Regions from separate parts of the Homo sapiens genome. Here region 2 is linked to region 1. A link means that fine-mapping ties the variant in region 1 to the expression of a gene that starts in the linked region. Tissue or cell type: sigmoid colon. Region 1 holds a variant in brackets; the other region holds the start of a gene. All regions are shown on one strand. Distances are between the middles of the regions.

What was found. PIP is the estimated chance that this variant, and not a neighbour inherited with it, causes the effect.
Region 2: it holds the start of CRELD1, and the variant in region 1 is fine-mapped to the expression of CRELD1 in sigmoid colon (GTEx, PIP above 0.99).

Annotation. Positions count from the first base shown.
Region 1 is chr3:9,256,791-9,264,365 of GRCh38, reverse strand. SRGAP3-AS4 (SRGAP3 antisense RNA 4) reads right to left here. Exons shown (of 3, transcript NR_146969.1): 2 at 7,366-7,575; 3 at 6,859-6,993. It also overlaps a transcript of SRGAP3 not described here. Among named protein-coding and RNA genes, the nearest start is that of SRGAP3-AS4, 11 kb to the right of the region's middle. The variant T/C (reference allele first, on the strand shown) is at 3,369.
Region 2 is chr3:9,931,236-9,936,235 of GRCh38, reverse strand. CRELD1 (CRELD disulfide isomerase 1) reads right to left here and starts at 2,402. Exons shown (of 11, transcript NM_001077415.3): 1 at 2,316-2,402; 2 at 1,624-1,816; 3 at 1,319-1,401. The coding sequence starts at 1,797. It overlaps IL17RC (interleukin 17 receptor C), which reads right to left. Exons shown (of 19, transcript NM_153460.4): 17 at 3,533-3,628; 18 at 3,378-3,416; 19 at 2,615-3,283. The coding sequence ends at 2,643. RefSeq lists an enhancer at 1,991-2,360 and silencers at 2,461-2,790, 3,371-3,430.

The DNA of each region.
Region 1 (7,575 bases):
CAGATTTTCCAATACTATGTTTAATAGGAGTGGTGAGAGAGGGCATCCTTGTCTTGTGCCAGTTTTCAAAGGGAATGCTTCCGGCTTTTGCCCATTCAGTATGATACTGGCTGTGGGTTTGTCATAAATAGCTCTTATTATTTTGAGATATGGTCCATCAATACCTAGTTTATTGAGTGTTTTTAGCATGAAGGGGTGTTGAATTTTATCGAAGACCTTTTCTGCATCTATTGAGATAATCATGTGGTTTTTGTCATTGGTTCTGTTTATGTGATGGATTATGTTTATTGATTTGCTTATGTTGAACCAGCCTTGCATCCCAGGAATGAAGCCATCTTGATTGTGGTGGATAAGCTTTAGAACGTGCTGCTGGATTCGGTTTGCCAATATTTTATTGAGGATTTTTGCATCTATATTCATCAGGGATATTGGCCTGAAATTTTCTCTTTTTGTTGTGTCTCTGCCAGGTTTTAGTATCAGGATGATGCTGGCTTCATAACATGAGTTAGGGAGGAGTCCCTCTTTTTCTATTGTTTGGAATAGTTTCAGAAGAAATGGTACCAGCTCCTCTTTGTACCTCTGGTAGAATTCAGCTGTGAATCTCTCTGGTCCTGGGCTTTTTTTGTTGGTAGGTTATTAATTATGCTTCAATTTCAGAACTTGTTATTGGTCTCTTCAGGGATTCAAGTTTTTCCTGGTTGAGGCTTGGGAGGGTGTATGTGTCCAGGAATGTATCCATTACTTCTAGATTTTCTAGTTTATTTGCATAGAGGTGTTTATAGTATTCTCTGATGGTAGTTTGTATTTCTGTGGGATCAGTGGTGATATCCCCGTTATCATTTTTTCTTGTGTCTATTTGATTCATCTCTCTTTTCTTGTTTATTAGCCTGGCTAGCAGTCTATCTATTTTGTTAATTTTTTCAAAAAAGCTAGCTCCTGGATTCATTGATTTTTTTTTGAAGGGTTTTTCATGTCTCTGTCTCCTTCTGTTCTGCTCTGATCTTAGTTATTTCTCGTCTTCTGGTAGCTTTTGAATTTGTTTGTTCTTGCTTCTCTAGTTCTTTTAATTGTGATGTTAGGGTATCGATTTTAGATCTTTCCTGCTTTCTTCTGAGGGCATTTAGTGCTATAAATTTCCCTTTAAGCACTGCTTTAGCTGTGTCCCAGAGATTCTGGTACTTCGTATCTTTGTTCTCATTGGTTTCAAAGAACTTATTTATTTTTGCCTTAATTTCGTTATTTACCCAATAATCATTCAGGAGCAGGTTGTTCAGTTTCCATGTAGTTGTGTGGTTTTGAATGAACTTCTTAATCCTGAGTTCTAATTTGATTGCACTGTGGTCTGAGAGACTGTTATGATTTCCATTCTTTTGCATTTGCTGAGGAGTGTTTTACTTCCAATTATGTGGTCAATTTTAGAATAAGTGCTATTTGGTGCAGAGAAGAATGTATACTCTGTTGATTTGGGGTGGAGAGTTCTGTAGATGTCTATTAGGCCCACTTGGTCCAAAGCTGAGTTCAAGTCCTGAATATCCTTGTTAATTTTCTGTTTTGTTGATCTGTCTAATATTGACAGTGGGGTGTTAAAGTCTCCCACTATTATTGTGTGGGAGTCTAAGTCTCTTTGTAGGTCTCTAAGAACTTGCTTTATGAATCTGGGTTCTCCTGTATTGGGTGCATATATATTTAGGATAATTAGCTCTTCTTGTGCATTGATCCCTTTACCATTATGTAATGCCCTTCTTTTTCTTTTTTGATATTTGTTGGTTTGAAGTCTATTTTATCAGAGACTAGGATTGCAACCACTGCTTTTTTTTTTTTTTTTTTTTTTGCTTTCCATTTGCTTGGTAAATCTTCCTCCATCCCTTTATTTTGAGCCTATGTGTGTCTTTGCACGTGAGATGGGTCTCCTGAATACAGCACACCGATGGGTCTTGACTTTATTCAATTTGCCAGTCTATGTCTTTTAATTGGGGCATTTAATCCATTTACATTTAAAGTTAATATTGTTATGTGTGAATTTGATCCTGTCATTATGATGCTAGCTGGTTATTTTGCGTATTAGTTGATGCAGTTTCTTCATAGTGTTGTGGTCTTTACATTTTGGTATGTTTTTGCAGTGGCTGGTACCAGTTTTTCCTTTCCATATTTAGTGTTTTCTTCAGGAACTCTTGTAAGGCAGCCCTGGTGGTGACAAAATCTCTCAGCATTTGCTTGTCTGTAAAGGATTTTATTTCTCCTTCTCTTATGAAGCTTAGTTTGGCTGGATATGAAATTCTGGGTTGAAAATTCTTTTCTTTAAAAATGTTGAATATGGGCCCCCACTCTGTTCTGGCTTGTAGGGTTTCTGCAGAGAGATCCACTGTTAGTCTGATGGGCTTCCCTTTGTAGGTAACCCGACCTTTCTCTCTGGCTGCCCTAAACATTTTTTCCTGCATTTCAACCTTGGTGAATCTGAGGATTATGTGTCTTTTTTTTTTTTTTTTTTTAAATATATGAGGAGTATCTTTGTGGTGTTCTCTGTATTTCCTGAATTTGAATGTTGACCTGTCTTGCTAGGTTGGGGAAGTTCTCCTGGATAATATCCTGAAGTGTGTTTTCCAGCTTGGTTCCATTCTCCCTGTCACTTTCAGGTACACCAATCAAACGTAGGTTTGGTCTTTTCACATAGTCTCATATTTCTTGGGGGCTTTATTCGTTCCTTTTCATTCTTTTTTCTCTAATCTTGTCTTCATGCTTATTTCATTAAGTTCATCTTCAATGTCTGATATCCTTTCTTCTGCTTGATTGATTTGGCTATTGATACTTGTGTATGCTTCACGAAGTTCTTGTGCTGTGTTTTTCAGTTCCATCAGGTCATTTATGTTCTTTTCTAAACTGGTTATTCTAGTTAGCAGTTCCTGTAACCTTTTATCAAGGTTCTTAGTTTCCTTGCATTTAGTTAGAACATGCTTCTTTAGCTCAGAGGAGTTTGTTATTACCCACCTTCTGAAGCCTACTTCTGTTAATTTGTCAAACTCATTCCCCATCCAGCTTTGTTCCCTTGCTTGTGAGGAGTTTTGATCCTTTGGAGGAGAAGAGGCATTCTGGTTTTTGGAATTTTCAGCCTTTTTGCTTCGGTTTTTCCTCATCTTCATGGCTTTATCTACCTTTGGCCTTTGATGTTGGTGACCTTTGGATGGAGCTTTTGCGTGGACGTCCTTTTTGTTGATGTTGATGCTATTGCTTTCTGTTTGTTAGCTTTCCTTCTAACAGGCCCCTCTTCTGCAGGTCTGCTGGAGTTTGCTGGAGGTCCACTCCAGATCCTGTTTGCCTGGGTATCACCAGTGGAGACTGCAGAACAGCAAAGATTGCTGCCTGCTTCTTCC[T/C]CTGGAAGCTTTGTCCCAGAGGGGCACCCGCCAGATGCCAGCTGGAGCACTCCTGTATAAGGTGTCTGTCAACCCCTGCTGGGAGGTGTCTCCCCGTCAGGAGGCACGGGGGTCAGGGATCCGCTTGAGGATGCAGTCTGTCCCTTAGCAGAGCTCAAGCACTGTGCTGGGAGAACCACTGCTCTCTTCAGAGAGATTTCTCTGTGATTTCTTCACTTCAGAGCTGTGAATCTTCACTTCAGAGCTGGCAGGCAGGAACGTTTAAGTCTGTTGAAGCTGCGCCCACAGTTGCCCCTTCCCCCAGGTTCTCTGTCCCAGGGAGATGGGAATTGTATCTATAAGCCGCTGACTGGGGCTGCTGCCTTTCTTTCAGAGATGCCCTGCCCAGAGAGGAGGAATCTAGAGAGGCAGTCTGGCTACAGTGGCGATGCCACGCCGCAGTGGGTTCCGCATCGTTTGAACTTCCCAGTGGCTTTATTTACATTATAAGGGGAAAACAACCTACTCAAGCCTCCTTAATGGCGGACGCCCCTCCCCACACCAAGCTCAGCATCGCAGGTCGACTTTAGAGTGCTGTGCTGGCAGCGATAATTTCAAGACAGTGAATCTTAGCTTGCTGGACTCCATGGGGGTGGGGTCCACTTAGCACAATCACTCGGCTCCCTGTCTTCAGCCCCCTTTCCATGGGAGTGAACGGTTCTATCTCTCTGGCATTCCAGGCACCACTGGGGTACGAAAAAAACTCCTGCAGCTAGCTCAGTGTCTGCCCAAATTGCCACCCATTTTTGTGCTTGAAACCCAGGGCCCTGGTGGTGTAGGCACCCGAGGGAATCTCCTGGTCGGTGGGTTGCGAAGACAATGGGAAAAGCATAGTATCTGGGCTGGATAGCACTGTCCCTCACGGCACAGTTCCTCACGACTTCCCTTGGCTAGGGAAGGGGGTTCCCTGACTCCTTGTGCTTCCCAGGTAAGGCGACGCCCCACCCTGCTTCTGCTTGCCCTCTGTGGGCTGTACCCACTGTCTAACCAGGCCCAATGAGATGAGGTGGGTACCTCAGTTGGAAATGCAGAAGTCACCCGTCTTCTTGGTCTCGCTGGGAGCTGCAGATCAGAGCTGTTCCTGTTTGGCCATCTTGCCAGCCCCACCCCTGGCCCCCAGCTATTTAGATTTAAACTCATTAAATGAAGCCAACCTAAAAATTGAATTCTGCAGTCACACTTGCCACATTTTAAGTGCTCAATGGCCACCTGGGACTAGTGACAATCGTATTGGACAGTGCAGGTACAGAAAATTTTCACCGATGCAGAATATTCTCTTAGACATGTTGGTCTAGTGGAGGTGGGGTGTGGAGAGTCCAGAAATAGTCATTAAGTGAACAAACAAATATGTAGCTGGGTGCAGTGGCTCATGCCTGTAATCCCAACATTTTGGAGGCCGAGGCAGGAAGATCCTTTGAGCCCAGGTCTTTGAGGCCAGCCTCAGCAATACAGTGAGACCACCACCATCTCTACAAAAAAATAAAAAAATTAGCTGGGCACCTGGTGTTTCAGGTCACACCTGGTGTTTCAGTATGATCTGTAGTCCCAGCTACTTGGGAGGCTGAAAGGGGAGGATCGCTTGAGCCCAGGAAGTCCAGGCTGCAGAAGTCTGTGATCATGTCATTTCACTCTAGCCTGGGTGACAGGGCATGACCCTCTCTCTAAAAAAAAAGAAAAAATTACCCACTCCCCACCAAAGTAGGTAAATAAGATAACTTCAAATGTGGTAGCCATATGAAAAAAAAGAAACAGGGAAATGTGCTGGAGTAGTCGTTTGGTTAGGGTGGTCTGGGTGGGCCTGTGTGAGAAGGCGACGCAGGAGCCAGGACCCGGGGAGGATCTGAATGAATAGCAAGTGCTGGGAGCACTGCAGAAATATAAGAAGGCCAAGCATGGCCCGGAGTAGGGAGCAAGAGGGAGAGAAGCAAGAGATGGGCTTAGGAGCGAGGCGGATGCCCAATCCCGTGGGCTCATGGGGAGGAGCGTGCATTCAACTCTTAAGTGCGAGGAGGACATCGCAGGCTGCCCACGGGAAATTATTATGATCTGATTCACACGTGAAAAGCTCACTCGGGTTCCAGGGTTGATCGCAAATAGGAGGGAGGCACGATCAGAGACAGAGGGACCAGCAGGGAGCTCTAAAGCTGTTCAGGTGGGAGAAATTGAGGCCTTGGGATCACGGAGAAAGGGCAGTAGCTAACCCTAGAGGGAGGCAGTATTCGTGTTGTAGCTCAATTCTGCATCCGAAAATACAGGGGGCAATGATAGCACCTGGTATGTGGTGCCACTGATAAGAGGATGCAGAGAGCTAGTGTCTATAAAGTCGCCAGTATTTTCAGTATGATGGTACGTGGCATCATCTTGTCTAACCCATCTTTGTCTCTCAAAATATTTTCTAGCTCCTTGTCTTGCCTGTTCTAGTCTGGTTTCCACACTGCCACTAGAGTCACCTTCCTCAAAGGCCAATCTGATGTCAGTTCCCTTCAGGGCTCCTGGGGGAACCCAGATGAAACTCCGAGCTTGTTAATACAGCCTAGGAAGCTTCTCACACTCCAGCCCATGTCTCTGTCCAGCATCACCTCTCCCACTCTCTGCCTGGCACTCTGCTCCAGCTATACCAATTGTCCCCTTGGCTCATGCAGTTCCCTTAGCTGGGAATACTTTCCCTCCCCTACTTGGGTGGGTTCTCTCCAGCTGTTTGTCTTTCTAAGCTCAGCTTAGAAATTTTCGCCTCCAAGAAACCGCTTCTGTGTTTCCAAGTCTAGGTCAAGTGCCCTTACATGAGATCCCATGGGACCCTGTGCTTCTCCATAATGTTGAATTACAATTGCCTGTTTACCAGTCTCTTCCATTAAACTGAGGTCTTCACAACAGTAGGAACTATCTCTGTCCAGTTCATGATTGTGCATATCTCAATGCCTAGACTATATCGAGTGCTTAAGATATATTTTGTTTAGGCCAAGTGTGGTGGCTTATGCCTATAATCCCAGCACTTTGGGAGACCAAGGCAGGTGGATCACAAGGTCAGGAGTTCGAGACCAGCCTCACCAAGATGGTGAAACCCCGTCTCTACTAAAAATACAAAAATTAGCCAGGCGCGGTCGTGGGTGCCTGTAATCCCAGCTACTCAGGAGGCTGAGGCAGGAGAATTGCTTGAACCTAGGAGGCAGAGGTTGCAGTGAGCCAAGATCATGCTACTGTGCTCCAGCCTGGACGACAGAGTGAGACTGTCTCAAAAAAAAAAAAAAAAAAAAAAAAAAGGAGCTATTTTGTTTAATGAGTGAGTAAATGAATTCGTAAAAATCATCTATTTATAGCATTTGGTAGACCACTCTCTTTTCCTATGCCCTTCTTTTGCACATTGTTATTATTATTTTTTTCAAACAACCATTATTTAGGCTTCCTAACCTGAATGTGTTAGCTTAGGGTGCCATAAAGAAATACCATATACTTGGGGGCTTAAAAATCAGACATGTATTTTCTCACAGTTCTGGAGGGTGGAAATCTGAGATTAGGGTGCCAGCATGGTCAGGTTCTGGAGCAGTCTCTTTTCCTGGCTTTCAGATGACCATCTTCTCAATGTGTCCTCATAGGGCAGAGAGAAAGAGAGAGAGTTCGCTTTGGTGTCTTCCTTCAAAGGGCACTAATCCCATCATAAGGGCCCCATCCTCATGACCTCATTTAACCCTAATTACCTCCCACAAAACCATTTCCAAATAGCATCACATCGAGAGTAAGAATTTCAACCCATGAATTTTAAGGGGACACAAGCATTCAATCCATTGCATACCCCATGCTTTAGAATTAAAAAAATATAAGGTGTAAATTATTTTGTGTTGGGCTTTCATAGGGGCAATATATAACACCTTTCTTTCCCATTTAGGTTCTGAACTAACTGAGGAATAGATAAAGAATGTAGACAGATGGAGATTTTAACAGATGCTTATGTGGCACTTACTGGGTGCCAGCTAACAACTTGCCCAAGGTCACACAGCTTATCAGTGGTGGAGCCAGGGTTTAAACTCAGCTCTAGAATCTATTCTTGTTATTCTGTTTCTTAAAGTGTAAGCTTTAAGCTAGATTGCAGGACATGGTAGGTATGTGTCCACCAGGCCAGTTAACTCTCCATCACCGACTTAGACTCTCCCAGGCAGTTGCAGAACCAGAG
Region 2 (5,000 bases), 670 kb before region 1:
TTCTAGTGGGCATCCCAGTTAAGCCTTTTCCACACTTCTATGAAATAGGCAAACCAGGTATTAATATCCCCATTTTACAGGTGAAGAAACTGTGGCTCTGAGAGGTTAAGAACCGACAACCAGGTCTAACTCTGAGCCTTTGCTGACTCCTCTTCCATCTGACTTTGAAAAGCTGGAGGGCTCAGGGCTCGCCTTTCTGTATCCTTCCCATGCCTTTCTTTACATACTGACTATATAAATGGCTTTCTGTATTACATATATTGACTATATAATGGCTTTCTGTATCCTTCCCATGGCTTTCTTTACATACTGACTATATAATGACAACTCTCAAATTCCTGTTTCCAATTCCTACTCTTTTCTGAATTCCAGATTTGTATGGAGTCTACCTGGATGTCTAATGGACATTTCAGCCCAATACGTTCAAAGAACACCACATCCCACCCCTCCCCTAAACCTTCTCGGTTTCGCATCTCACCATCTTAGAAAACAGCTGCACTACTCACCCAGTTGCTCAGGCCCAAAATCTAGTAAGCATCTTTTATTCTACTGTTTCTCTATACCCATAATGAATCTATCACCAGGTCCTATTGTTCTCTCTGCAAAATATACCCAGACTGTGACCTCTTCATCATGTCCTCCACTAGATACCACACTAGCTTGTGTTGCCTTTGTACCTAGATGATGCACTTGCCTCCCAAACTGGTCTCCCTGCTTCCTCCGCCCTTGCCCCTTACAATCCGTTTGCTACATAGCAGTGTGAGTAATCTTTAAAGGTGTAGAGAAGACAGTATCACTTTTTCTGCTCATAGCCTTCCAAGAGCTTCCCATTACACTCCAAAAAAAATCTAAACTCTTTTCTGTAGCCCTCGAGGCTTAAGCCTTTGCCTTCACCTTCTAGCACTCTCCCCTTGGCTCACTCCACTCCAGCCACTTCTCAAATACACCAAGCTCAGTCCCATCCTCTGCCCAATTCCCTCCCTGTCACATAGCTCGCTTCTTCACTTCCTGTCTCTCTGTTCAAATGCCAAACCTTGAACACCTTGCCTCCCACCGTCCTGCAGTCTACCGTGCTTCACTGTTTGTTCTTCATCTGACATAATATTATTCACTTACTCATTCACTGCTTGTCTTCTCTACTAGAATGTGAGCTCCAGGAAGGGGGCATTTTGCTTGCCTTGTTTACTGCTATACTATAGATGTTCAGTGCTATTTGTTGAATGAATAAGTGCTCCCCAAGAGTTCCTAGCCCTACACCAGCAGAGCAGAGATTTGGCGGGGAGGGGAATATACACCCCTTCCCCCAGCAGCCCCTTACCTGTCTTTGTATTTGGACAAATTCTCTTCCTCCCAGGCAGTGTTTCCACCTCCAAAGTTGTCCCGGATGGTTCTCTCCAGGCCCTGGAAACAGAAAATTAGTAATAGCTAAGTACAGTGCCTGGCACATGCTAGCACTTCACTGTTCTACTGACTAGGAAACTGAGGCACAGAAAGGCAACCTGCCTAGGGCCATACAACTAGTAAGAGACCAAGATGAAACTTAAATCCACGCAGATTTGCATCCCAGAGTTCCCCACTCTAAATCGCTGTGTTCCCCTCTAACGAGGCTGCCGGTGCACCCACCTTGTTAAAGCTGTCAACCAGTCCCCGGCAGGTATGACACGGATGGGGCTGAGGCGGGGGAGAAGACTGGGGAGGTGGAGAGGGCTGGAGCCAGATAGGTCCTGGGAGGTTGAGGAAGAGGCTGAGGCCCCAGAGCATAGCTGGGACTAGGCCCTTCGGGGGCCATGGGGCCATCTTTACCCAGGCTGGGGACCTGCAGATAGAGGGCGTGGAGAGGCTTCACTGAAGGAGTCAGGCCCCACGCGAGAAAGAAAAAGGTCTGTTCTAAGGTGCCGTGGCGCTGGGATCTGCGTTATTACAAGCAAAAGAGGCCAAACTGGGTATTGCAGGGGCTGTGGGGATGGGTGGGGAAAGGCGCATAAGATGCAATTCCAGAAGAGAAATAAGTTATCCTCGCTAGCATGGGGTGGAGAGGAAAGTGGCCTCGCTCCTTGACAAGGGGGCAGAAGTCAGCCTCTTGTCTGAGGGTCTGATAAAGAATATTAGGGGCCGGATCCGCAGAATTAGGGAGAAGAGATCAGATTCCAAGTACTGAAGGAGAGGAGGCCAGAGGGGTTGTCTTGGGGGAGGTGTCCGGAACCCCGGGCTTGGAGGGAGGAGCCCGGATCCGGATATGAAGGGAAGGGATCAGATTCAGGGCCTCGCAGAAGGGCAAAGGCACGGCCCACGAGCCGGCAGAGAAGGATCCAGACCCTCGTAGGCCACGGAGAAGGAAGAAGCGACCGCCCCAGCCCGCGGGCGCCGTGGGCCGTCTCCTCACCGCGTCGCTGCCACAGCCTGCGTAAAACGCACAACCCCCACCCGCGCCGCAGTCCAGGGGGCGGAGCTTGCCGCCCAGCCAATGGCGACGGGCCATGTGCCATTACGTCACCCCACGCCAGCCAACCAGAGGCGGCACCGAGCTGCACCTGTCCGGGCTTTAAAGGGCCGCGGGGCTAGGGAATGACGTTTGCCAGCCCCGCCACTGAAACGGAGACGCGTGTGGGCCACATGGGTAGAAAAACAGCGTCTGCCTTTATTTAAGTCCCGTCCCCCGCCCCAGGTCCCGCGCCTGGTCCCACCCCGCGTCCCGGCGCGGGAGTCCCCGGGGGATGGAAGTAGCTATCCAGGGCTGGCTGAAGGGCCCGGGACACTTGCTCCGCTCTCTCTTGGAGCCGCCCGGAACGCGGGGCGCGAGGCTGCTGCAGGGCCCCCAGGAAGTCTGGCAGTTGGGAGGGCAGTGTGAAGACGGGCACGGTGCGGAAAAGGGCGGGTACGGCGTCCGGGTGGAGCAGCCTGTCGAAGCAGGCCCCCACGTAGCTGCCGGGCGCCCGGCCCTGCAAGAAGTCGGGCAGCACGCAGCTGAGCGAGGCGCGGAAGGCGTCGTGCGGGCCGTGCGCCCCGGGCCCGGACACCCCATCCTGTAGCCACTCGCTGCACAGCGCCACCGCACCGGGAGAGAAGAGCAAGACCACCACGCCGCCCTCCTGCAGGGTCTGGCGCCGCTGCGCGTGAAACCAAGCCACGGGCCCCTGCGCGCTCAGTTCACGACGGCTCCACAGGTCTACGGCCACGCGCAGCGGCAGCTGGCACAGGGCCGACGCCAGGGCGCCCACCAGGCGCTCGAAACCCGAGTCATCGGCTGAGTAGAGGAGCAGAGCCGCGCGGCCCCTGGCGGCCGCTGCCGGAGAAAACAGATGGGGAGGGAAGAGGTGAGCTGGCACAGGCCTGGCTCCCCGGGGGCGGCCCTCCGCCCAGCGCTTGCTCCCACTCACCCCCCGAGCGGACGTCCTGTTTCAAGAGCCTCAGCCACCCTGTTAGGGGAGAGGGGCGGAGGCAGCCAGTGAGCTCGGCCGCCGCTTTCCCTCGGAGAACTCCCACAGCCACTCTGGTCCTCCCCCAGGGGAATGGGGAGCCGGGAAGCGCTCACCTTTCGCGTGATCCTTTTTGAGAAGGAGGATGAGGGAAAGCGCAGCGGCAAAGAGTAGGCAGGCCAGCCACACGAGGGCCCAGCGCTTGTGGATGTCTGGGAGACCCAGAGAAGAAGAGTTAGAAACTTACCCTCCACAGAGAAGAAAAACTGAGACTTAACAGAAATGAATTGGGCCGGGTGCGGTGGCTCATGCCTTTATATAATCCCAGCACTTCGGGAGGCCGAGGCGGGCAGATCACGAGGTCAGGACATCAAGACCATCCTGGCTAACACGGTGAAACCCCGTCTCTACTAAAAATACAAAAAATTAGCCGGGCGTGGTGGCACACGCCTGTAATCCCAGCTACTCGGGAGGCTGAGGCAAGAGAATCGCTTGAACTCGGGAGGCAGAGGTTGCAGTGAGCCGAGATCGCGCCATTGCACTCCAGCCTGGGCGACAGGGTGAGACTCCTCTCAAAACAAAACAAAACAAAACAAAAAACGAAGAAATGATTTGCCCAGAGTCCACAGCACAGTGTCAGAGCCAGTGGATGAATATAGCTCCATCTGTTTAGGGGTCTTTGAATAAGTAATGTCACCCTCTGCCTCAGTTTTCTCCTCTGTAAAGTTGTACCTGTGTCATAGGGTTGGTGTGAGGACTAAATATATTAATACATATAAAGCTTAACACAATGTGTTAATACATACTTAACACAATGCCGAGCATCTTAAGTGCTAAAATGTCAGCTGTTTTTCTCCCCTAAGCTAGGGTTGCTGGGCCCTTGATCTTGCTGTCCTGGGTGTCTGCAACTACCTGGTGTCCCTGCCCTGTCTTTTTTTTTTTTTTTTTACCTCCAATTGATTTGCCTTGAATTGATTCATGACAGCCTCAGAGATCTTTTAAAAATATAAATTTGGGCCAGGTGCGGTGACTCACGACTATAATCCCAGCACTTTGGGAGGCCGACGCGGGCGGATCACGAGGTCAGGAGTTCAAGACCAGCCTGGCCAAGATGGTGAAACCCCATCTCTACTAAAAATACAAAAATTAGCAGGGCATGGTGGCAGGCGCCTATTAATCCCAGCTACCCGGGAGGCTGAGGTAGAGAATTGCTTGAACCCGGGAGGCAGAGGTTGCAGTTAGCCGAGATCGCGCCATTGCACTCCAGCCTGGGCAACAGAGTGAGACTCTGCCTCAAAAATAAATAAAAAAATAAGTATATATATATATATATATATATATATATATATGTGTGTGTGTGTGTGTGAAATATATAAAAATTTGATCGTAGCTCCTGCTGCTCTCAACATAAGATCCAAATCCCCTACATGTCTCCTGCATCTTTATCTCATGACAGAAACCTGCCTGTCCAAGACCCTGTATCTCTACCCCCTTCCCCTAGCTCAGTCTTCAGAGTTTTGCTGGAACCTTCCCCCTGAGCCCCTCACCCCTCACCCCACCCAGGTCAGGTCCACATTGTATGCA